Regions from separate parts of the Homo sapiens genome. Here region 1 is linked to region 2. Evidence: fine-mapped expression QTL. A gene starts in region 2. The other region holds a variant in brackets. All regions are shown on one strand. Distances are from middle to middle.

Region 1 (10,715 bases), 65 kb after region 2:
TTTGTTAATCTCATCTATTGTGGTGATGTGTTTCTAGTGGGGAGACGGCATCAAGTGAGAGACTTGCCAGCACCATCTTGACCAGCAGCCAAGAATATGTTCACATGGAGCTTAGCACAGGGCCCAGCCCTAGGCAAGTCCCCACCACCAGCCCATTTGCCTGTATTCTCTCCTTACCATCCTCATTCCTGGCTTTAGGCAGGATACGTATGTGTCCACACCTAGTGAGATTCACTCCCTGAGCCCTGGAGAGCAAACAGAGGATGATCTGGAGGAAGAGTGTGAGCCAGAAGAGATGCTGAAGACACCATCCAAAGATAGCTTGGATCCAGGTTGGAAAAGGGGCCCTATTTTGAACTATGTCAGTGTAGGGAATCATTGCTGGGTTTTGCCCATGACCTTGTTTACAGGGCCTGGCACATATTAAAACTCAGGAGTCGACAGGGTGCGGTGGCTGATACCTGTAATCCCAGCACTTTGGGAGGCCGAGGTGGGTGGATCACCTGAGGTCAGGAGTTGGAGACCAGCCTGACCAATATGGTGAAACCCCGTCTCAACTAAAAATACAAAAATTAGCCGGGCGTGGTGGCGTGCAACTATAGTCCTAGCTACTAGGGAGGCTGAGACAGGAAAATTGCTTGAACCTGGGAGGCAGAGGTTGCAGTGAGCTGAGATCGCGCCACTGCACTCCAGCCTGGGCAACAGAGCAAGACTCCGTCTCAAAAATAATAATAATAATAATAATATAAATAAAATAAATAAAATTCAGTAATCAGGCTTAGCGTGGTGGCTCACACCTGGAATTTTAGCACTTTGGGAGGCTGAAATGGGAGGGTCACTTGAGGCCAGGAGGTCGAGACCAGCCTGGGCAACATAGCGAGAGCCCATCTATGCAAAAAAAAAATTTTTTAAAGAAATTAGCCAGGCATAGTGGCACACATCTGTAGTCCCAACTACATGGGAGGCTGAGGCAGGAGGATCACTTGAGGCCAGGAGTTTGAGACCAGCCTGGCACGTACCAAGACCCCGTTCCTACAAAAAGAAAAAAATTAGCCAGGCCTGGTGGTGCACACCTATAGTCCCAGCTACCTGAAAGGCTGAGGCAGGAAGATCGCTTGAGCCCAGGAATTCCATGTTATAATGAGCTATGATTGCACCACTGCACTCCAGCCTGAATAATAGAGTGAGATCCTGTCTGTAGAAAAAGAAAGAAACTCAATAATCATATCAGTCAAGACTCTTTCAGTATAAAAGCAACCAGGCTTAAGTCAGGAAGAGGATTTTTTGGTGCCTGAAAATTGGAGAGGATTAGCTTTCAGCATGGCTAGATCCAGATAGACAGATGATGTTAAAAGGAAGATTTTTTTTTGTATCTTTTGGCTCTGCTTTTCTTCATGTTGGCTTTGCTGATGGACAGACTGTCCCTTTACTAGGGGAAAAGATACCCCCAGCAACTACAGGCTTATAAAACTCCATAGAGAATAGAACACCTCTTTCCTATAGTAGCTCAAGCAGAGTCTTAGGGTTGTGTGGCTCATGTTTCTGGTATCTGCTGTACCCACTTCTGAGCCAGTTGTTGTAGCTGTCCACATCTCAGCATGTGATCACTTCTGAGGGCAGAGACTGTAGTCAGCTCCATCCACTCACACCACCTGACCAGGCATCAAAGATGTGTTTGAGGCCGGGTGTGGTAGCTCACGCCTGTAATCCCAGCACTCAGGGAGGCCGAGGCGGGTGGATCACCTGAGGTCAGGAGTTCGAGACCAGCCTGGCCAACATGGTGAAACCCCATGTCTGCTAAAAATACAAAAATTAGCTGGGCGTGATGGCGTGCGCCTGTAATAGCAGCTACTTGGGAAGCTGAGACAGGAGAATTGCTTGAACCTGGGAGACGGAGGTTGCAGTGAGCTGAGACTGCGCCACTGCACTCCAGCCTGGGTGACAAAGCAAGACTCCGTCTCAAAAAATAAATGAACAAGTAAAAATAAATTGAATTATGTTGCGGATATTGTCCGGAATCTTTTTCCTCTGCAAAGTCTCTCATCTACCTGTATGTTGGTGAATACAAAGCAGACGCCTGCGAAATTTTAAGTTATTCCCCTCCAGGTGGCCATTTAGGTTTTTCCTGATTGCACATCACTGTTAATGAGGCTATGGAGTGGAGACCACTCCTAAGCCTCCTCGAAATGTGAGGACTTCTCCAGGAGAGAGTCTGAGGAGTAGCACCACTGGATCCTGGAGTTATTTTATTTTACTTTAAAAAAGTTGTTTTATTATTTTATTTCACTATTTTTGTTGCCCAGGCTGGAGTTCAATAGCACAATCATAGCTCACTGTAGCCTTGACCTCCTGGGCTCAAGCAATTTTCCCTCCTTAGCCTGTGGAGTAGCTGGGACCACAGGCTCAAGCTCCCACACCCAGCTAAATATGTGTGTATCAGGGGATGGTGTGTGTAGAGACAAGGTCTCACTGTGTTGCCCAGGCTGGTCTCAAACCCCTGGCCTGAAGTATCCTCCCACCTCGACCTCTCAAAGTGGTGGGATTACAGGCTTGAGCCAGTATGCCTGGCCTTTATTTTAAAAGAGAACCCCGGCTGGGCGCAGTGGCTCACACCTGTAATCCCAGCACTTTGGGAGGCCGAGGCGAGCGGATCACGAGTTCAGGAGATCGAGACCATCCTGGCTAACATGGTGAAACCCCGTCTCTACTAAAAATACAAAAAAAAAAAATTAGCCGGGCATGGTGGCGGGCACCTGTAGTCCCAGCTACTTGGGAGGCTGAGGCAGGAGAATGGCATGAACCCGGGAGGTGGAGGTTGCAGTGAGCCGAGATCGCGCCACTGCACTCCAGCCTGGGCAACAGAGCGAGACTCCGTCTCAAAAAAAGAAAAAAAAAGAGAACCCCAAGAGTTCTCCAAACCCAGTTACTGCCCCACCCTGCATTGCATTAGGCTCTCCATTGTCCCCACACTTTTCCTGCCATCCTTTGGTAGTATTAAGCTTTTTCACCTCGGTCAGTCTCGTGAGTCAAATATCGCATCCCACGGTTTAAGTTTGCATTTCCCTAACCCCCGGTGCTGTTGAGCCTTCTGACTTCTGGGTTGTGGTGTTGCCTCTTTGGGGACTGCCCGGTTATGTATGTGGCCTGTTTGTTGGGTTGTTTGTCCTCTTTTCATGGATTCTGTGTCTTTCCAGATCCTCGTTGCCTGCTAACCAACGGCAAGCTGCCACTGTGGGCAAAGCGGCTGGTAAGTCTTCAGGGAGAGGGTTGCTCAGGGGCTGGCAGAGGAAACGCCTCCCCAGCTCTGCCTTCTGGAAGCCCTTTTTCCTTTCCATGTCCCTCTTTTCCCTGGAGAAGCCCTGTCATCCTTCCAGGCTCAGTGAGACAGCCCTTTGTTCATGATCAGTGCTCTCTGCCAGGCATTGTTCTGGATGTCAGGGACACAACAGTGAGCAAGGGAAACAAAAGTCTCTCCCTTCACAGGCTCACTTGCCTGTGTGGGCGAGGAACAATATCCCCATTAAATAAGTAAATGACGTAGTAGGTTGGGTGCTGATAAGTGCTGTGGAGGGAAAAGAATCAAGAAGGAAAATACGTCAGCCAGGTGCAGTGATACGTGTCTGTGGTCCCAGCTACTCAGGAGGCTGAAGTGGGAGGATCACTTGAGCCCAGGAGGTTGAGGCTGTAGGGAACTGAGAAGGCACCACTACTACACTCCAGCGTGGGCAACAGAGTGAGATCCTGTCTCAAAAAAGAGAAAAAGAACAGGGGCCCAGCACGGTGGTTCATGCCTGTGATCCCAGCACTTTGGGAGGCCAAGGCAGGTTGATCACTTGAGCCCAGGAGTTCAAGACCAGCCTGAGCAATATAGTGAGACCCCATCTCTACAAAAAATAAAAAAATTAGCCAGGCATGGTGGTGCATACCTGTAGTCCCAGGTACTCAGGAGGCTGAAGTGGGAGGATTGTTTGGGCCAGGGAGGTCGAGGATGCAGGGAGCTGCACTCCACAGCACTCCAGCATGAGCAACAGAGCCAACACTTTGTCTCATAAAAAAAATAAAAATAAAAAAGAAAATAAGGAGTGTTGGGGGGTGTCAGTTTTAAGTAAACAGGAAAGGCCTCATTGGGAAAATGATGTTTGAGCAGAGTTGAAGCAAGTGAGACAGGCAGATACTGGGACGAATGTTCTAGTCATAACAGCCTATACGTGTAAAAGCCACGAGGCCAGGAGCTCGAGACCAGCTTAGGCAACATAATGAGACTCCCATCTCTACAAAAGATTAAAAATAGCCAGGCATGGTGGTGCACACCCATAGTCCCAGCTACTCAGGAGCCTGAGGCAGGAGGATCACTTCAGCCCAGGAGTTGGAGGCTGCAGTGATCGTGCTACTGCACTCCAGCTTGGATGGCAGAACGAGACCTTGTCTCTTAAAAAAAAAAAAAGAAAAAGAGACCGGGTGCGGTGGCTCACGCCTGTAATCCCAGCACTTTGGGAGGCCAAGGCGGGTGTAATCCAAGGTCAAGAGATCAAGATCATCCCGGTCAACATGGTAAAACCCCGTCTCTACTAAAAATACAAAAATTAGCTGGGCATGGTGGTGCATGCCTATAGTCCCAACTACTGGTAAGGCTGAGGCAGGAGAATCACTTGAACCCAGGAGGCAGAGGTTACAGTGAACCGAAATCATGCCACTGCACTCCAGCCTGGCGACAGAGTGAGACTCCCTCTCAAAAAAAAAAAAAAAGAAAGACAATGTGGATTATAAGAGACAGAATAAGAGAGGTGAATGAAGGATGATCCCAAGGTTGGGGCATGAGTAACTGGAAAAAACAACTGAAACAGGGAATCTTTAGGAGGAGCAGGTTTGTGCAGAGGAAATGAGTTGAGTTGTCAGCATGTTAACTTTGAAATACCTACCAGACATCCATACAGAAATGTAGAGCAGTCACATGTGCAATTCTGAAGTTTCAGAGAAAAGTTCATGAATCCCAGCTGGGCATTCCCAGCACTTTGGGAGGCCGAAACAGGATTCCTTGAGCCCAAGGGTTTGAGACCAGCCTGAGCAACATAGTGAGAGTCCACCTCTACCAAAAACCAACAAAATGGGCTGGGCGCAGTGGCTCATGCCTGTAATCCCAGTACTTTGGGAAGCCGAGGCGGGCGGATCACTTGAGGTCAGCAGTTTGAGACCAGCCTGGCCAACATGGCAAAACCCCATCTCTACTAAAAATACAAAAATTAGCCAGGTGTGGTGGTGGGCACCTGTAATCCCAGCTACTCTGGAGGCTGAGACAGGAGAATTGCTTGAAACTGAGAGGTGGAGGTTGCAGTGAGCCAAGGTCACGCCACTGCACTCCAGCCTGGGAGACAGAGCAAGACTTCGTCTCAAAAAAAAAAAAAAAAAAAAAAACAGAGAAAGGTTCACGCTGGAGATATGTACCTGGAAGTTGTTTCTGAATGGTATTGAAAGCCAAGAGTCCAGATGGGCTGTGTGAAATGTCCGTGTCGCTCCCTGCAGTGAGTGAGCACTCAGCCAGTTGCCTGACTGTCCGATATCCTTCAAGCTAGGGGACGATGATGTGGCAGATGGCTTGGCCTTCCACGCCAAGCGCAGCTACCAGCCCCACGGCCGCTGGGCAGAGCGGGCCGGCCAAGAGCCCCTCAAGACCATCCTGGATGCCCAGGACCTGGATTGCTACTTTACCCCCATGAAGCCCGAGAGTCTGGAGAACTCCATTCTGGATTCACTGGAGCCACAGAGCCTGGCCAGCCTGCTGAGTGAGGTACACACTTCCACCGCAGCCTGGCCCATAGCCCCGGCACCGTGACGGCCCCAGGGCCTGGCGCCTTAGGCTGACTCCCACTCCATGGGGGCAGGGAGGATTACATGAGATGGTGAAGGGCAGGAGGGTGAGCCCCAGGTCTGTTGCACAGCAAGACTTCCCAAGGCAGACAGGGAGTCTTTGGAAAGTGGGTCACTTGGGGGTTAAGAGCTTGGATGCTAGAGCAGGCTTGTACCCAAGTGGGGGACATTTGGGTAGATCGAGCCCTGACCCTACCCATTCCTGTTGTGTGACCTGGAGTAAGAGGCTTACCTCTTTGGGCTTCAGTCTTCTAAAAAGTAGTCATAATGGGGTCAGGGGCAGTGGCTAACACCTGTAATCCCAGCATTTGGGGAGGCCAAGGCAGGAGGATTACTTAACGATCACTTGAGGAGTTCAAGGCCAGCCTAGGCAACGTAGCAAGATCCCACCTCTACAAAAATATTTTTTAAATTTTTTTGTTTGTTTTGTTTTTAAATGGTAATAACAATCTCTTCTGCCCCAGAGGGCTTTTACAGGAATCCATGCTTAAGTATAGGGCCTGGGCTCTTAGAGGTGCCCGTGCAACTTTAGCTCTTTCTCTACTATTTTCCAAACAAAATTCATTTTTATCCTATCCTATAATTTGTCATCTTCATTGTGGTATAATATACATCCAGTAACATGCACAGATTTTAGGTATACAGCTTGATGAACTATCTGTGTAATTCACGTGTGTCCACTACCCTGGGCAAAATCTGGAGTGTTTTCTACCTCATAGAAACCCCCTTCTGCCCTTCCCAGTCAGGTCCCCGCACCAGGATAACCAGTGTTCTGACCTCTCACCAAGGACTGGGTTTCCTATTCTTGAACTTGAT[A/G]TAAATAGACACGTAGAGGGTTGGGCCTCCTATTTTTGGTGCCACACCTCTTCCTCATCTGTAAAGGGACTGATAATGCAGGGGCAGACCAGGACAAGCTGGTTGCGAGTGGAGGGCATGGCACAGGCCCTGGTTCACAGCCTCCAGCAGTGGGGCTGCTGGCATGGTTCCTGGCGCACTGTTGGTGGCCCCAGCCATGCCTGCCTCAGAATGGCTGTGCTGTCTTCCCCATAGTCAGAGAGTCCCCAGGAAGCTGGCCGCGGGCACCCCTCCTTCCTGCCCCAGCAGAAGGAATCATCTGAGGCCAGTGAGCTCATCCTCTACTCTCTGGAGGCAGAAGTGACAGTCACAGGGACAGACAGGTGGGTGTCCTTTCCACCAAGGGAGCCTTAGTTGGAGGAACCCCCAGCTGATAGCTGCATCCTGGAAGAAGTGCTCTCTGCCTTCCCAGTGGGCTTGTGGGAGTGGGGACAGTTGAGGCCTGGATGGGGCAGGAGCCCAGCCTTAGTTCCCTGGTTCCAGGTGGGGTACAGGAGGGCCTGACCTGGGGGAAGGAGGGGGCATTTGGAGGAGGCGGGGAGGCTGTCGCAGTGCTCCTGCAGGAGCAGCGGGTACAGGTGCCTAGGGGCTCCGGGTGGGGCTAGCTGTTGAGTCTCCAGCTGAAGTCCTTGTTCCCTCTCTGCCCCCACTGGCACTGCAGCCAGTATTGCAGGAAGGAGGTGGAGGCCGGGCCTGGAGACCAGCAGGGCGACTCCTACCTCAGGGTGTCCTCCGACAGCCCAAAGGACCAGAGCCCGCCTGAGGGTGAGTGCAGGGCAGGCAGGGACCCTGTGACAGTCTGTGCGTTCAGCCAAGCCCCTTTCTGGGCACCGATGGTGACTTTGACCCAGTACTGAAGCTCAGAGTCTGTCGAGGAAGACACATGTGGTCCCTGCTGCTGCCTGAGGATTCTGGGCCCAGCTGCCTACAGCTGAGAGCCCAGCTCTGCCACCTCCTTGATGTGGAACTTCCCTTATTCATAAAATGGGGGGCAGCTGCTCTTACCATCCCTCCTCCAGATGGGGAAACTGAGCCCAGGGAAGGGTAGCCCTGGCCCTGGCTCACCAGAATGGTCAGGCTGTGGGCTCCTGACCCCGACTCTGTCCTTCAGACTCGGGGGAGTCAGAGGCCGACCTGGAGTGCAGCTTCGCAGCCATCCACTCCCCAGCTCCGCCTCCTGACCCTGCCCCTCGGTTTGCCACGTCGCTGCCCCATTTCCCAGGTAAGCAGGGGCCAGACACGCAGGGGACTCGCTGCTCGGGCCTGGCTTAGGGCCAGTCACAATGTCTAAGCACAGGCCCTGCACTTGGAGCCCACTGAGCCTGGAAGACGGGGATCCCTGCTTCTCAGCCTGCGGGCAACAGGGCAGGGATGGGTGGGGCCCGCTTTCTCCATTTCAGGTGGCGTCTGCTGTGACTCATGGTGTTGGCTCCTCTTGTCCCTCCCCTCCTTCCCTGTCAGGATGCGCAGGTCCCACAGAAGATGAGCTGTCCCTGCCCGAGGGACCCAGCGTCCCCAGCAGCTCCCTACCCCAGACTCCGGAGCAGGAGAAGTTCCTCCGCCACCACTTTGAGACACTGACTGAGTCCCCCTGCAGAGGTAGGGCCCTGCCTCACCCACACCTGCCGAGGCCGTCTGTGCAGCCTGGGCACAGCATTGGCGTCCCTGGAGTTGGCTCCCCAGCAGGGCCAGGAGGGTGAGTGGAGAGCAACTGCTTCGTTTTTTTTGAGACGGAGTCTCGCTCTGTTGCCAGGCTGGAGTGCGGTGGCCCAATCTTGGCTCACTGCAACCTCCGACTCCCTGGTTCAAGCAATTCTCCTGCCTCAGCCTCCTGAGTAGCTGGGATTATAGGCATCCACAACCACGCCCTGCTAATTTTTTGTATTTTTAGTAGAGATGAGGTTTCACCATGTTGGCCAGACTGGTCTCAAACTCCTGCCTCAGATGATCTGCCCGCCTTGGCCTCCCAAAGTGCTGGGATTACAGGCGTGAGCCACCGTGCCCGGCCCACTGCTTCACTCTTGACCTGAGCCTCACGATGCCTCCTCACCCACTGCCCCTGCTCGTACCCTGTGTCTGTACATAAGGGTTTCTGGGGAGTGCCCCGCTGGGCTGTGGGCTGGCCTAGGGCCAGGGCTGCTCGGCGGGAAGGGTTATGAGGGTCCCCTCGGGATCTTCCCCTAGAGCTCTTCCCCGCAGCTCTGGGAGACGTGGAGGCCTCTGAAGCTGAAGACCACTTCTTCAACCCACGCCTGAGTATCTCCACGCAGTTCCTCTCAAGCCTCCAGAAGGCATCCAGGTAGAAGCTGGCCAAGCACTGCCCACCCTCTGGCTCCTCAACAGTGCCCCAGGGCAGGCTGAATGAGAATCATCCCCCCTGCTCTCCTCCCCACAGGTTCACCCATACCTTCCCTCCCCGGGCAACCCAGTGCCTTGTGAAGTCTCCAGAGGTCAAGCTCATGGACCGAGGCGGAAGCCAGCCCAGAGCAGGTACTGGCTACGCCTCCCCAGACAGGACCCACGTGAGTATTGGGCCCACCTCCGTCAGGGCACGGGGCTGGGAACCCTGAGGCCTTGTCCTCACCTCAGAGCTGTGCCTGCAGGTCCTCGCTGCAGGGAAGGCTGAAGAGACCCTGGAGGCCTGGCGCCCACCACGTGAGTGCCCCAGTCCCAGACGGACAGTCCTGGGTTTCTCGGCGAGTGGCCGGATGTCCAGCCTAGCTGTGGGGCGTGGGGGCCCTAGCCATCAGTTCTGTGTGGTGGAGTCAGTGCCATCTGCTTCCGTTACAGCTCCCTGCCTTACGAGCCTGGCGTCCTGTGTCCCTGCTTCCTCCGTGCTGCCCACAGACAGGAATCTCCCAACGCCCACATCTGCACCCACCCCAGGCCTGGCTCAGGGTGTCCATGCCCCCTCCACCTGTTCCTACATGGAGGCCACTGCCAGCTCCCGTGCCAGGATATCACGCAGCATCTCCCTCGGTGACAGTGAGGGCCCTATCGTGGCCACACTGGCCCAGCCCCTCCGTAGGCCATCGTCCGTTGGGGAGCTGGCCTCCTTGGGCCAGGAGCTTCAGGCCATCACCACCGCGACAACACCCAGTTTGGACAGTGAGGGCCAAGAGCCTGCCCTGCGTTCCTGGGGCAACCACGAGGCCCGGGCCAACCTGAGACTGACCCTGTCAAGTGCCTGTGATGGGCTCCTGCAGCCCCCCGTGGATACCCAGCCTGGCGTCACCGTCCCTGCAGTGAGCTTCCCAGCCCCTAGCCCTGTGGAAGAGAGCGCCCTGAGGCTCCACGGCTCTGCCTTTCGCCCAAGTCTCCCAGCTCCTGAGTCCCCTGGCCTTCCTGCCCACCCCAGTAACCCCCAGCTTCCAGAGGCCCGGCCTGGCATCCCTGGCGGCACTGCCTCCCTCCTGGAGCCCACCTCCGGTGAGTACAGCCCTGGAGCAAGGACTGTCCCCTAAGCTCATCCTGTGTGCTAGTTGGCTCAGCTCCAAAGATGGATACTTGACCTGGCCACAGGGACTGTGCCATTCATTCATTCGTGCATTAACTTAAATATTTAATGAGCATTACATGTTGGGCTTTGTGCTAAACCCTGGGACATGGGACATGGTGGTAAACAACACAGAGAACTGACAGCTTCAATGGGGACAATGCCCAGACTAAACCTTTAAGGAACCCGTCATATGTATCACGAAGTGACACATGCTTAGGAGGGACAGAGGAGGGCGAGGGAGTGCAGGGTGGGGACAGGGGTTGGGATTACAAACCAGAAGATAAGAAGAGGCTTCAGGGAGGAGGCTGCATTGGAGCAGAGACCTGTAGGAGTGAAGGGGAGGGAGCCTTGGGGACCCAGAGAAGTGTTCCAGACAGAAGTACAGCATGGAGTCCACCCAGTCGCTCTGGCCGCTCACACCAATGGAATGCAGCTCATCTTGCTCATTCCCTTCTCTCTACCCCAGGTGCACTTGGTCTGTTACAGGGCAGCCCTG
Region 2 (15,344 bases):
CTCGGAGCCCCCCTCTCCCTTGGCAGCCCCGACCCTCCCTAGAGTGGTAGTCCCTGAGCCCCCTCTCCCACGCCTCCAACCTCCCGCTATCTCCTCAGATCACCGTCCTCCTTCCCCTCGCAGCCTGGCCTCACCTGGGTCTCCGCGTCCCTCACCCAGGTCCTTGCCCCCTCCCAGCCAGGGCTCTCCTCCTCACCTCGCGGCCTCGCACCCTTCAGCAGCACACGCACGAGGTCGGGCACATCAAAATAGGCCGCGTAGTGAAGCGCGTTCATGTTGGTCCAGCGGCTGCGCAGCGTCACATCTGCGCCCAGCGCCAGCAGCTGCTGCGAGAGGCGCACGGCTGCCGCGGGGTCCCCTGCGCGATAGGCCGGGTCAGCTTGGAACCCCCATTCCAGAGCATGGGCCCAGTGCACGGGGAGGACCCTGGGCTTCAGGGACTATACTTTGGGATCCGAAGCTTCGGGTTCCAGATGGGGCCTGAGTTCTGGGTGGTTTTCAGCGTGTTGGGTCTGGGGGCCTAGGCTTTGGGGCTTATGACTTGGGGGTAGGGGGCCCTCACCGACTCCGTGGGCCCCAGCTTTGCACGCATAGTGGAGCAGTGTCATGTCGGTCAGCCCGTCACGATCGTTCACATGGCAGCCTCGGCGCAGAATCTGTGAGTACCAGGGGAGCAGGGAGGGTCACCCACACATGTGGGGAACCGCATCCCCTCTCCCCCTGGTTTCCCCAGTGTTCTCACCTCATTGCCGATGACGTCTATCTTGTGCTGGACTTGGGGCACCCACTGGCGCACAATGGCAAACAGCTCGGGGATGGTGGTCTGAGGGTCAAACAGGATCTCCTGGCACGCCGGGTCATTGGGATCGAAGAAGGTGAAAGCTGGGGTGGCAAGAGGTCCAAGGTCACCCCACGCAACTGACCCCCTCCTTCCAGCCTCAGTAGGGGAGCTGTAGGTCTTTGCCTTTTAGAGCCTCTAATGCAGGGTCTCAAGCTGGTGGCACATGGGCCACAGTCAACCCACAGGCATTTTCTGTGTGGCCAGCATGAGGTTTCAAACTCAGGTGGGTTCACATAAAAATCTCGATGCCCAGTGTGTCTTGAAAAGTTGGAAGATCAGGCAATTCCCATATAGCAGCAAACTCCACCCCCTGAAACAAAAGCCTGACAGAGAGTGCAGTACCTTGGAGTCTGCATGTCCAGGGGGACTGCTACTGACCTCACCCACTGTTGCCCTGTGAGAGTATGAGTGAAGTTTGGCTGAATCTCCAGAGCAAAAATAAATAAAGCCAGAAGTCCTGGTTTTTAATAAAACTCTCTCAATTGTTTCAAATACCATGCAGTCCACATCAAATGTATCCATGACTGGGCACAGTGGTTCACATCTGTAATCCCAATGCGTTGGGAGGCTGAGGCAGGAGGATTGCTTGAGCCCATAAGTTCAAGACCAGCCTGGGCAACATAGCAAGACCCCTGTCTTTACAAAAAGTTTTAAAATTAGCCAGGTGTGGTGGTGCGCATTGGTGCTACTCAAGGAGATTGAGACAGGAGGATTGCTTGAGCCCAGGAGTTCAAGGCTGCAGTGAGCCATGATTGTGCCACTACACGCCAGCCTGGGCAACAGAGCAAGACCCTGACTCTGGAAATATAAAAAATAAAAATAGAGGCTGTGCGCGGTGGCTCACGCCTGTAATCCCAGCACTTTTGGAGGCCGGGGCGGGCGGATCACCTCAGGTCAGGAGTTCGAGACCAGCCTGGTCCAACGTGGTGAAACCCTGACTCTACCAAAAATACAAAAATTAGCCAGGCGTGGTGGTGGGCGCCGGTAATCCCAGCTGCTCGGGAGGCTGAGGCAGGAGAATCACTTGAACTCAGGAGGCAAAGGCTGCAGTGAGCTGAGATGGCGCCGCTGCACTCCAGCCTGGGTGACAGAGAGTGAGACTCCATCTCAAAAAAAGTAAATAAATAAATAAAAATGAAAATAAAATAAAATGTATCCATGAGCAGGAATCAACCTGTGCCCAGCCAGGGTGGTGCCTAGAGGCACTTCTGTCTCTTCCCACTCGACTCTAAGGAGTACTGCTCTCTGTGACGTCAGCACCCAGCACAGGGCCCTGGCACGTGGCAGGAACTCAGTGCGTGGTGAATGAACGACTACATGAATGATCAGATTATACACAGCCCAGGGAAGTGCCACATAGAAGGTGTCTCCAGGAATCAGCCGGCATGCTCCTTTTAGAACTGCAGTCACATCATAGCCCTTCTTGGCTTAGAACCCTCCTCCAGCTCCCAACCCATCCAGAGTACAGACCAAAGTCTTCCCCACGGCCCTCAGGGCTCTGCACATCCAGCCCCTCAGTTCTCAGCCCTCTCCCCTCACTTATTCCCCTTCCCTCATTTCCCACACTGGGCTCCCTCTGTCCCTCCCACGTGCCAAGCAAATTCTTGTCTCAGGGTCTTGGCACTTGCTGTTCTTCTCACTCAGGATAGACTTCCCACACATCTTCACAAAGCTTTATAAATCTTTGCTCAAATGTCATCTCCTCAGAGAGGCCTTCCCAAACCACACTGTCTAAATCGGCACCCGCCCTTCTCCATCTCCTACTCTTTTTTTTTTTTTTTTTTTTTTTTTTTTTAGAGATAGGGTCTTGGCTGGGCATGGTGGCTCACGCCTGGAATCCCAGCACTTTGGGAGGCCAAGGCTGGCAGATCATGAGGTCAGCAGTTCGAGACCAGCCTGACCAACATGGTGAAACTCCATCTCTACTAAAAATACAAAAATTAACTGGGCGTGGTGGTGAGTGCCTGTAATCCCAGCTACTCAGGAGGCTGAGGCAGGAGAATCGCTTGAACTCGGAAGGCAGAGGTTGCAGTGGGCCAAGATTGCACCATTGCACTCCAGCCTGGAGTCCGTCTCAAAAAAAAAAAAAAAAATAGGGTCTGTTGGAATGCAATAGTATGATCATAGCTCACTACAGCCTTGAACTCCTGGGTTCAAGTGATCCTCCTGCTTCAGCCTCCCTGGTAGCTAGGACTACAGTATACATCACCATGCCCAGCAATTTTTTTTTTTTTTGTAGTGACAACGTTTTGCTATGTTGCCCAGGCTGGTCTCGAACTCCTGGGCTCAAGTGATCCTCCCACTTTGGCTTCCCAAAGCACTGAAATTACAGGTGTGAGCCACCATGCCCAGCCCTTTATTTATTTATTTATTTTTATCATAGCTCATATCACTACTTGACATGTTTACTCCTCTTTCTCCCTCCTTCATTTCCTCTCTTCTTCCCTCACTAGGATCTAAATGCTATGATTCTATTCTGCCTCATTCACTCCTTTATCCCCAAGGCCAGGCACAGCACATGGCACACAGTAGGTGCTCAGTCAATCTCTGTTGAATTAATGTACAAATTTAACAGATACATGATTTCCTCTTGGAGTCCACCTTAGCCTTCTCCCTGTCCTCGACCACATTTCCAGATTTCTTCACATTCTGGGACAAAACCTCTCCCGCTCTACAAGCAAGACTGCTTGGAGGGCTCAGCCTATACCCTCCGACCTCCCACTGAGTCAGAGGCCCCAGCCACCTCCAGCTGCATTTCCAAAGGAGATTTTCCAGTTTTCTGAGGTACAGCACCCCCCCGACCTCAGGCCCCAGATAACTTCCTTTTACTTTTTTCTTTTTTTGAGACAGGGTCTCACTGTGTCACCCAAGCTGGAGTGCAGTGGTGCAATCCTAGCTTACTGCAGCATCGAATTCTCAGGCTCAAGTGATCCTCCCACCTCAGCCTCTGGAGTAGCTGGGACTACAGGTACCCACCATGCCTGGCTAATTTCTAAATTTTCTGTACAGATGGGGTCTTGCTCCATTGCCCAGGCTGATCTCGAACTCCTGGCCTCAAGCAATCCTCCCACCTTGGCCTCCTAGAGTGCTAGGATTATAAGCCAGAACCACTGTGCCTAGCCAACTTTCTTATTTTTCTATTAGACTGAAGTCAACTTGTAGTCTCCCTGATCTACCTCTAGTGGGTGACATGTCCATGGATGCCATCTGTCTTGCTCTATCCTGGCAACGCTGACTCTCTGAACCTGGTTTCTGAACCTCACAGCTGCCGGGGATTCCCAGCCTGCATATCTTCCAAATTCCCCTCCTACATCCAACTCTGGCTGCACTCCATCCCCTTCTACCCAGTACCCAGAGGGAGCTTTCAAACTACAAATCAGACCTGCCACTCCTCTGCTCTTAAACACCCTCCCCTTGCCACTCTTCTCCCCTGTCCCACTTAGAATATAACCAAAGTCCTCACTGTAGCCTTGAAGGCCCTTCCAGATCTGGCCTATGCCAACCTCTCACCTCAACCTCGATCATTCCCTGAATGCAGCTCCAGGATCTTTCTGTTCCAAGTTCAATTCTGCCTCAGGGCCTTTGCACTTGCTGCTGTCTGCCTGGAACACTCTTTTTCCAGCTCTCTTATGGCTGATTCCTCCCCATGCTCTGGGTCCCAAACTAAATGTTACCTACTCAGAAAGAGCAGCCCTGACTACCCCTGCAGGTAGCTGCCCCCTAGTCATTATCGTATCTCCACCTTTAATTTCTTTTTCTTTTTTCTTTTTTTCTTTTCTTTTTTTTTTTTTTCTTTTTTTTTTTTTTTTTTGAGACAGTCTTACTCTGTCACTCAGGCTGGAGTGTAGTGGCTCGATCTTGGGCAACCTCTGCCTCCCAGGTTCAAGCGATTCTACTGCCTCAGCCTCCCGAGTGGCTGGGATTACAGACATATGCCACTATACCCAGCCAATTTTTGTATTTTTAGTAGAGATGGGGTTTCACCATGTTGGCCATGGCTGGTCTCAAACTCCTGACCTCAGGTGATCCGCTGGCCTCAGCCTCCCAAAGTGCTGGGATTACAGGCGTGAGACACCATGCCCAGCCCACCTTTTCTTTCTTTCATAGCACTTGCTCCAATCTGAATTTATCTGATTTCTGATTTATTTATCTGTTCACTTGTTTAGTCTCTCCTTCTCTCCTGCAAGGGAGGATCATGCCTGGATCACTTAGGATTAAATCTCCGGCACCCAGCATAAGGCTTGTCACAGAGTAGCAGCACTCGATAAATATCGCTCGGTCAATGATTAGACACTTTCAGTTTCTCCAAGAGGCCGCCCTCTCAGCTCCATACCCTCCTACCTCAGATCCTTTACCCAGCGGTTACCTCTCCTGGGAGCCCTTTCCCCTGACCCTTCTCTTAGTTAACCCCAACTCACCCTCCAGTCTTCTCAACTGTAACCTCCTCAGGGAAACAATGTCTTAAAAAACTCTTGCAGCAGCTTGTTTATGGTAAATACAATTTTCATAATGTCTTGTAATTACATATTTATATTACATTATATTTTTCTTTCTTGCATATAAACCTAAATGTGAAAAATTACATTATGGTTTAATACCTATTTGTGTGGCTGTTACTGAGGCCTGTGAGTTGTCTCAGGGCAAAGACTGGGTCTCTCTTGCCCCCTGCTGTGGCCCCAGCCCCTAGCATAAAGCCAGGTCCACAGCCGCTTTCAAAAAATGATTGTTGAATGACTAAATGATGGAATGATGTGTCATGAGTCAAAGACTAGGAGTATTACAATTCCATTCTCCAATGGGTGAATGAATGAATTAACGAGGGGTGCTCTGCAGCCAAGATTCCTCTGGACCACCTTCAAATTCCCCAGAATTCTCCCACCATCACCACCAGCAGAGCACAGCCCACCCTCCCCGGCCACCCAACGCTCCAGGCCAGATTCCAGGGTGGGGACAGTGGTTACCGTAGTCCTTAGGGAGGGGGGCAGGTGCCGAGGGGTGCACAACAGGCTTCTGCCGGCGCTCCTGGGTGGGGCTGGGGGCCTCGGGGACGGGTTCATCCTCCTCCTCCTCTTCTTCCTCCTCTCCTCGGGGTGGCGGGGCCATCGGGGCAGGATCTGTCTTAGTCATGGTCCTCGGTGGCCCTCGGGGGGCGGGTGCAGAGTTGGGGGCAGCCTTCAGGCAAATCCTGGAGGCAGAGGTCAGCTGGAGAGGGTGCCCGGCAGGCTCCAGGGTCCAAGCCCCTAGGAGCTTCCAGGGCCCCGGGTGGCCTCCGCGCAACTGGATCTTGGGCAACCATAGGGACCCCCGTTACCCATAGAGGGCCCCGGTGTGTGCGCCCAGCGCCTGCCACCTCCCCCAGGCCCAGCCCCCCATTCTTCTCCTCCCGCGTCAGGCCCCTCAGTCGCGGCTGCCCCCTCCCCGGGTTTGTTTATCTCGGGATTCAGGATGCTTCGCCCCTCCCCTTCTCCGCGGGCCGCCCCCTCCCCATCTTACCTCGGGCAGACAGCGCTGGGGACCAAAGTGGAGACTGGGGAGACTGTGGGAGCAATGGGGTGTCGGTGTCAGGGGACGTGATGGGGGAGGCAAGGGAGACAGAGAGAAGGGGACGAGGCCCAGACGCCGACAGGGGGTGGGGGCGGAGAGGGAGGGGCGCGACTGCGCATGCGCCTGCTGCCCCCCTACCGGCGGCGGGGGAGGAGGGACCAGGAGGAGGGACCGGGAGGCGCTCGCATTGATGGAGGGGCCAGAGGCGGCGACTGAAAGGGGAGAGCCTCCGGGCACTGGGAGAGGAAGAGATGGCTACGGAAAGGAGCGAGATGAGCAGATACAACGGCAAAAGAGAGGGCTGAGAGAGCGGACACAGATCTTCTCCATCCCCTTCCCCCACGCCTGCAAACCAGGCCGGTGAGGGCAGTGGTCTTGGGGCGTGGTGACGATGGGGACCCTCTAGGGGACCCTCTCTCTAGGACCCTAGACCGGACCCCTTCTCCAAGCTCACCATTCATAATGGGTGCCTCAGAGGGGTGATTTCCTAGAGACTCCTATCATGATCATCTCATCCTTACCATCATAATGCGAGGCTCACACACTGGGGCCCAGAGGTTAAGCAGCTTGCCCAAAAGTACATGAGTAGGTGATGGAGCGAACATTTGAAACCAGACAGTCTGTAAAGTCTGATTTTTATTTTTATTATTTCCTAGACAGGGTCTCACTCTGTCACCCAGGCTACTGTGCAGTGTTGTGATCTTGGCTCACTGCAGCGTCAAACTTCTGGGCTCAAGCCATCCTCCCACCTCAACCTCCCGAGTAGCCGAGACCACACGTGCATGCCACCATGTCTGGAGAATTTTTTTTGAGACAGGGTTTTGCCATGTTGCCCAGGCTGGTCTTGAACTCCTGACCTCAAGGGATCCTCCTGCCCCTGCCACCCAAAGCGCTGAGATTACAGGCACGAGTCACCATGCCCAGCTTTGATTCTTAATCACCATGCTACATGCCTGTAGCAGTGTCTGGGAAACAGATCTGCCGATTGACCCCTCCAACTCTCTCAGAACCTGTATCTTCCCCACGGAGGCCTCCTGAAGCCAGCCCAGGGTCCTGGCTCCATTGTCATGGCTTGGCTTCCCACCTGGAGCTGTAGCCTGCTCTGCCTCAAATCATCCCAGCCTGGATGGGGCTGGGTGACAGCCTTGAACACCTCATCCTTCTAATGCACAGGTCCAGTAGCTCCATCTCCAAAAGATTTCCAGGATCTCACTCTCCCCACCGCTACCCTGGGCCCTCATCTTGGTCCATCCTTCTTCTTCTGCCACCAGCACTACGGCAGCAGCCTCTTACCTGCTGTCCCCGTCCTCCTCCAACATGCAGCCACAGGGACCCATGAACACCTGTCACTTTGGAGCCCTCTTTCCCTCAGAGGGGTCTGCCTGCTGCACCTCACTCCAGGTAGAAGCCAAGGCTCTCAGCCATGGCCCACAAGGGCCTATGTGAACCTGCCCCATCATCTCTGCACTCACCTCCTCTCACCCTCTTTTGTTCACTCCACCCCAGCCACACTGGCCTCCTTGCTTCTCCCTACCCCAGGACCTTTGCACTGGCTCTTTTTTTTTTTTTTTTTTGAGATGGCAGTCTCACTGTTCCCCAGGCTGGAGTGGAGTGGCATGATCTCTGCTCACTGCAACCTCTGTCTTCCAGGTTCAAGTGATTCTCCTGCCTCAGCCTCCCGAGTAGCTGGGATTACAGGCCTGTGCCACCACACCCAGCTAATTTTTGTATTTTTAGTAGGGACGGGGTTTCGCCATGTTGGCCAGGCTGGTCTCAAACTCCTGACCTTAGGTTATCTGCCTGCCTCAGCTTCCCAAAGTGCTGGGACGACAGGCGTGAGCCACCGTGCCTGGCCTGCAACGGCTCTTTGTGATGCCCGGAATGCTCTTCCTCCAAATCCCTACGTGGCTCCCTCTCTGCCCTGTTTTAGGATCTTACTTGTTGGTGTCTTTTCACCTTCTCTGCTCTAAAACTGCACCCCTTCCTCCCTTCCCTACTATGGTTTTCTCCATAGCAACACCGCCTCCCAGACCTGACACATCCCAGACAGCAGGCCCTCACTGCAGGGGTTGTTCGTCCTCTGGAACCTGAGCCTGTAGCGCTCCAGGCCAGCCCCTTCTGATCACCCAGGTTTCTGCTAAAACATGGCCTTGGAGGGCCCTCCCCCAGGCCCAAACCAAATTTTTGTTGTCTTTATAGCACTCATCGCTCATGTCTGCAGTGTTCTTGTTTATTTGTTTACTAGTTCATCGTCTACTCAAGTAGAATGAGCACCATGAGGGCAGGGATTTTCTCAGCTGTGTCCACCATGGTATCATGAACTCAGTACCAGGCTTGGCAAAAAGCGTGGGACTCCTTAGAACCAGGTATGATTCTCCCAAACAACCCTTGCTCTGCTCTGAGGCTGTCGTACTGATTTGCAAAGATCTGAGCCGGGGGTGGCAGAAGCCTGGTACCCAGGGGATTGGGGGCTGATGAGAGACTTGGGCCCAGGTCACCCCTAAGGTTCAAGAGATCCCTAGGAGTGGGGTGGTAGAACCCAGGCCCTTGAGGGAGGCACTGCTACTACCCAGGCGTGGGCGGTGGGGCTGGGCCAAGCCCACGTATAATGTCTTTCCTCCTCCATCTTCTATCTTTTGTCCCTCGACATTGTCTGTCTTGATCCTTATGCACTGGGGATCCGAGTGTCCAGGAGCTCCGGCTTGGCATCCACTGTGGCAGGTGCAGGGTCCTGGGCAAGGACCATGGCTATGTCAGGCCCTCCACAGATGATGGTGAAGGTTTGGGATTCCTCAGGTCCAAGGGTCTGGGCTGTTGTCTAAGGCAAAGAAGTGGTAGAGATGGGGAACATTACGAAGCAAGTTGCGGGAGAGACAGACAGATAACGGTGAGGAACAGGGAGGCAAAGGTGGCAGGAGGGCGTGTCAGGAAACAGAGAGAGATGTGGGGAGAGATATGAGGAGACAGGAAAGCAGATGTGAGGGCCAGAGAGACATTCATGGGAAAGGAAAGAAGGGTGGGGAAATGGGAAGAGAAGTGCGGGGGCACAGACGCAGACACGTGGGGGAAAGAGATGTGCAGGCAGACAGACGTACAGACAGGGTCAGAGATATGGGGGAGACAGAAAATATGCAGATAAAGAGAGACACAGGGAGGTGGGGAAACAGGTGGCGGACAGAGATGATGGGCAGAAAGACAATGAATGTTGGGGAGGGAGGAGATTGGGAGGTAGGGATAGATGAGTAGGAGACAGAGATTGAATGACAGGAGGGGAGGCAGAGAGAGGCAGTCAGCTCAGGGGATCTGGCAGGCTCCACAAAGAGCCCCAGGCCCGAGTCTGAGCTCTGTCCCTGCCCCACTGTCCCTCTGTGCCCCAGGCCACAGTCTCAAACTTCAAGGCCCCAGAGGCAGCCACACTGTAGCTCCAGCCAACTGCTATCACCTGAGAATCCAAGCCCAGTGCTGCTAGATATGCAGAGCCTTCAGGAAAGACCAGACTTTTTTTTTTTTTTTTTTTTTGAGACAGAGTCTCACAGTGTCACCCAGGCTGGAGTGCAGTAGCACAATCACAGTTCATTAAAGCCTTGACCTTCTGGACTCAAGCAATACTCCCACTTCAGCCTCTCAAATAGCTAGAACTATAGGTGCAACACTTGGCTAATTTTTTGTGTTTCTTGTAGAGACAGGGTTTCACCATGTTGCCCAGTCTGGTCTCAAACTCCTGGGCTCAAGTCATCTACCTGCTTCAGCCTCCCAAAGTGCTGGGATTACAGGTGTGAGCCACTGCACTCGGCCATTATAAATTATTTTAAAGCACTGCGGAGGCCAAACAAATTGTATCTGTGGGTCATGTCCAAACCACTGACTATCAATCTGAGACTCCTGGCTGGGCATGGTGGCTCATACCTGTAATCCCAGCACTATAGGAGGCCGAGGTGGGCTGATTACCTGAGGTCAGGAGCTCAAGACCAGCCTGGCCAACATGGCAAAACCCCGTCTCTACTACAAACACAAAACTTAGCTGGGCATGGTGGCACGTGCCTGTAATCCCAGCTACTTGGGAGGCTGAGACAGGAGAATCGCTTGAACCAGAGAGGCAGAGGTTGCAGTGAGCTGAGATCGCACCACTCCACTCCAGCCTGGGCAACAGAGCAAGACTCCTTCTCAAAAAAAAAAAAAAAAAAAATCGGATACTCCTTAACTCCAGAGGTACTGTGGGGGCTCCTTCCTGAGCCCCTTCAGTGAGTCTAGCATTCAGAGCTCTGTGTGGGCATCTCTCTCATACAAGCAGGGCTCTGAAAGCCATGGGGGCTAAGCTGGGCACCTCAAGCTTGGCCCTAGGGTTTTAAGACAGGAGAAATTTCGCCTTGGTCAAACTGTGATTTTCAGAGACATAACACCATTCCTCATCTTCCTCCCCCGCCACCCCACACACAGAGACATAACACCCTTCCTCAACTTCCTCCCCTACACACACACACACACACACACACACACACACACACCTTCCTCAGCTTCCTCCCCTACACACACACACACACACAAACACCTTCCTCAAATTCCTCCCCTACACACACACACACACACACACACACACACACACACACCCAGCAGTAAAATATAGAGGCAAAAGGGATTCAGATAGGGCCTGGGGGACACTATTACAGAGATTGCAAACTCCAGCTCTATAGGGGCCAGGCAGGAAGCTCTCACAGGCCTCTTCTGCAGCCAGACACCTGGGTTTGAATCCTGGCCCTGAAACATGTTGGCTGCCTGACTGTGGGCACACTACTGGACTGCTCTGTGCCTCCATTTTTTCATCTGGAAGATAGAGACAACAGCAGTATTAAGATTATAATGAGGTTTTTTTTGTTTGTTTTTTGAGATGGAGTGTTGCTCTTGTCGCCTACGCTGGAGTGCAATGGCACAATCTCGGCTCACTGCAACCTCTGCTTCCCAGGTTCAAGCAATTTTCCTCCCTCAGCCTCCCGAGTAGCTGGGATTACAGACGTGTGCCACCACGTCCGGCTACTTTTTGTATGTTTAGTAGAGATGGAGTTTCACCATGTTGGCCAGGCTGGTCTCGAACTCCTGACCTCGTGATCTGCCCACCTCAGCCTCCCAAAGTGCTGAGGTTATAGGCATGAGCCACCACACCCGGCCTTTTTTTGTTTTTGTTTTTGTTTTTGAGATGGCGTCTCGCTCTGTTGCCCAGGCTTGAGTGCAGTGGTGCCATCTCGGCTTACTGCAACCTCCACCTCCAGGGTTCAAGCAATTCTCACACCTTAGCCTCCCAAGTAGCTGGGATTACAGGTGCGCCACCATGCCCAACTAATTTTTGTATTTTTAGTAGAGACAGGGTTTCTCTATGTTACCCAGGCTGGTTTCAAACTCCCGAACTCAAGCAATCTGCCTGCCTTGGTCTCCCAAAGTGCTGGGATTACGGGCATGAGCCACCGCACACAGACCATAGTGAGTTTTTTGTTTGGTTGTGGTTTTTGGTTTTTTTTGAGACCTTGCTTGGTCACCCGGGCTAGAGTGCAGTGGTGCGATCTTGGCTCACTGCAGTCTCTGCTTCCTGGGCTCAAGGGATCTTCCTGCCTCAGGCTCCCAAGTAGCTGGGACCACATGTGCCCACCACAATGCTAATTTTTGTGTTTTAGTGAGACAGTCTTACCATGTTGTCCAGGCTGGTCTTGAACTCCTAGGTTCAAGCGATCTGCCCACCTTGGCCTCCCAAAGTGCTAGGATTACAGATGTGAGCCACTGCATTTTTTAAAAATTAACCTTGTAGCAGTCAGGCATGGTGGCTCACTCCTGTAATACCAGCATTTTGGGACGCCAAGGCAGGTGGATCACGAGGTGAGGAGATCGAGACCATCCTGGCTAACACGGTGAAACCCTGTCTGTACTAAAAATACAAAAAATTAGCTGAGCGTGGTGGCGGGCACCTGTAGTCCCAGCTACTTGGGAGGCTGAGGCAGGACAATCGCTTGAACCTGGGAGGCAGAGGCTGCAGTGAGCCGAGATTGCACTACTGCACTCCAGCCTGGGCAACAGAGCGAGACTCCGTCTCAAAAAAAAAAAAAAAAATTAACCCTGTAGCTCCAGCTCAAAGGGTCATAGTGAGTTTTCAGCTCACTATGTTATAACTCTGTGTCTGGCAGACAATAAGAGCTTCTCAAATATTAAGTATTTAGTATTAGTAAATGGAGCAATCATTACTCAGCTCCAACCAATAGTTGCTTGGCATTGCCAGATTTTGTTTTTCAGGAAAACCTAGAAATTTGTTTTAATTTTCTGTAGAGACAGTGCTTGCTATGTTGCCCAGGCTGGTCTCGAACTCCTGGCCTCCAGCAATCCTCCTGCCTTGGCCTCCCAAAGTGTTGGGATTACAGGCGTGAGCCACTGAGCCCGGGAAAGCCAGAAATTTGGAAACACGGCTGAATGTTCTGATTTTTGAATAGGGGATCCTAGACAAAATGAAAACACACTGCAGGCCAGGCCACCACCCATGGATGGGGCTGCCAGGCTGGGGTGCCACTCACCAGGCGCTGCAGACCCCGGCGTGCCCGTGCCAGCAGGCTCTCCCCGTGTAGCTGCTGTGCCAGCCGTTCCAGGGCCTGCAGCTGCGCCTGGTGCCGCTCCTGGCACCGTTGCAGCCTCCGCACCCGGCGTTGCAGTGCTCCCAGCACTGGGCCCAGCCCGGTCTGGGCCTGTTGGGCAGGGACTTCAGGTTGTGACCGCTCAGGAGTTGGCGCAGGGGCCAGGGGGGTCAGGAGCATGGTGGCCACAGTCTTGGGGCTCCCCGATGTGGGGCCCAGCACCACTAGGCGCACTGGGCCAGAGACTGGGATGGCAGGGCTCTGGGGCAGGGGTGTATTCTTCTGTAGGGGAGGCGGCGGCGAGACTGGCTTCTGGGTGCTTCGGGTCCTCCGCTGACTCTGGAAGACAAGGCATGGGGTGCAGGGGTGCCGTGGTCAGACTTCGACTCAGGAGGAAAGGGATGGAGGGTCTGTTTCCAAGGGGGACTTGCCTAGGTAAGGCCAGACCTCAGGGAGGAAGTGTCGTCAGGAGGGGAGGGCCAAAGTTCAGACTCAAGGAGGGACTTCCCTTAGGCAGGGAGGTCTGGGGGTTGGATTCCAGCAGCAGGACCTCCCAGCGCTCACCTTGGCAGGTGGTCCCCGGGAGAAGATGGAGGGCACTGCATCAGGCCGCAGGTAGCGCACACCCCAGCGCCACTGGAAGCAGGAGGGTGTGAAGTGCTCGCTGCACAAGTGCTGGTGGCAGCTGGGCACCCAGTGCTCACAGCCCATGTGCTGCAGCCAGGCCTGCAGCCGGGGACCATCCTTCAGTGGGAACCTGCATGGGTGGTTGGGGGGCTGGGTCAGTGCTACGAGGTTCAGACTTATCCCTCCCAGAGGATACCCACCCTGGAGGTCTCTGGGCTCCAAGCCTGTGCCTCCCTAGGGCTAGGAAGTAGACCTGTCTTGTGCCCAGGCTTTCTCTATCTCATACACACAACCACAACCCTTTTTTCAGCTTCATCTTTTAGTAGTAGTATTTTGTGAGACGGGGTTTCGCACTTGTCACCCAGGCTGGAGTGCAATGGCGCGATCTTGGCTCACTACAACCTCCGCCTCCTGGGTTCAAACGATTCTTCTGCTTCAGCCTCCTGAGTAGCTGGGACTACAGGCGCACGCCACCACGCCCGGCTAATTTTTGTATTTTTAGTAGAGACGAGGTTGCACCATGTTGGCCAGGCTGGTCTTGAACTCCTGACCTCAGGTGATCCACCCACCTTGGCCTCCCAAAGTGCTAGGATTATAGGCATGAGCCACCAAGCCTGGCATTTCTTCTTATTATTATTAATTTGAAAGCTCCACCTTTTAAACACCCAGCATCAGCCCACCTCTGCCCCCTCCACTGCCCCTCCTTCCAGCCTCCTTCCTGGTCTTCCTGCCCACAGTCCCGCCCCTCCACTCCCAATTTGTTCTTCCACATCAACTTGTTGGAGCAGTTTATAAAATCAGACAGTTACGATGTGGGAGATCGTGCAGCCAAGCGAAAACGTTTCTTCCACACCATATAAATGGGGGTGTGGGGTTTCTGGATTAAGAGAGATTTAAGAAACATCAGCACAAACGCAGGATGTGGACCTTGCCTACAACAAACAATTCAGTAAAAAGACATTTTAAGACAATTGGGGAAAACTGAACATGAACTGGTTATAAGATAATTGTAAGAAACTGGTCAGGCATGGCGGTTCATGCCTGTAATCCTAGCACTTTGGGAAGACGACAAGGTGGGAGGATCGCTTGAGCCCAGGAGTTCGAGACCAGCCTGGGCAACATAGGGAGACCTCGACTCTACAAAAAAAAAAAAAAATTAGCCATGTATGGTGGTACATGCCTGTAGTCCCAGCTACTCGGGAGGCTGAAGTGGGAGGGTCACCTGAGCCTGGGAGGCAGAGGTTGCAGTGAGCCGAGATTGCGCAACTGTACTCCAGCCTGGGTGACAGAGCCAGACCCTGTCTTTAAAAAAAAAAAAAAAAAATTCATTTTGCTAGGTGTGATAACTGTATTGGTTTATACTTCTGAAACAGTCTTCTGTTAGAAATCAGTCTGAAATAATTACGGATAAAAGATCTGATGTCTGGGATTTACTTTAAAATAGTGCAGGACAAAAACTTAGAGGTGTGGGCAGGGCAGGGAAGAAGATTGGCAAAGTGTTGATAACTAGTGACACAGTGATGGATACTGAGGGCTCTACTTTTTGTGTATGCTTGAAAACACCCACTAACAAGTCTTTAAACAACTCAACAACAATAAAACACAAATAACCTGATTCAAAAATGGGCAAAGGACTTGAACAAACATTTCTCCAAAGACATACAAATGGCCAATAAGCACATGAAAAGATACTTGACATCTCCAATCATTAGGAAAACGCAGTATCA

The links. PIP is the estimated chance that this variant, and not a neighbour inherited with it, causes the effect.
Region 1: its variant is fine-mapped to the expression of CLIP3 in whole blood (INTERVAL, PIP above 0.99).

The regions. Positions count from the first base shown.
Region 1 is chr19:36,093,833-36,104,547 of GRCh38, forward strand. WDR62 (WD repeat domain 62) reads left to right here. Exons shown (of 32, transcript NM_001083961.2): 20 at 199-332; 21 at 3,195-3,247; 22 at 5,567-5,785; 23 at 6,916-7,043; 24 at 7,382-7,485; 25 at 7,832-7,942; 26 at 8,182-8,319; 27 at 8,905-9,019; 28 at 9,116-9,242; 29 at 9,324-9,375; 30 at 9,511-10,149; 31 at 10,686-10,715. Among named protein-coding and RNA genes, the nearest start is that of OVOL3, 12 kb to the right of the region's middle. RefSeq lists an enhancer at 6,775-7,276. The variant A/G (reference allele first, on the strand shown) is at 6,682.
Region 2 is chr19:36,026,390-36,041,733 of GRCh38, forward strand. It overlaps CLIP3 (CAP-Gly domain containing linker protein 3), which reads right to left and starts at 6,484. Exons shown (of 14, transcript NM_015526.3): 1 at 6,335-6,484; 2 at 5,803-6,026; 3 at 743-882; 4 at 563-656; 5 at 197-358. The coding sequence starts at 5,968. THAP8 (THAP domain containing 8) reads right to left here. Exons shown (of 4, transcript NM_152658.3): 2 at 13,555-13,747; 3 at 12,934-13,329; 4 at 8,595-9,203. The coding sequence ends at 9,051. The region is part of intron 3 of LOC101927572 (a long non-coding RNA gene); the gene reads left to right. RefSeq lists a silencer at 9,210-9,383.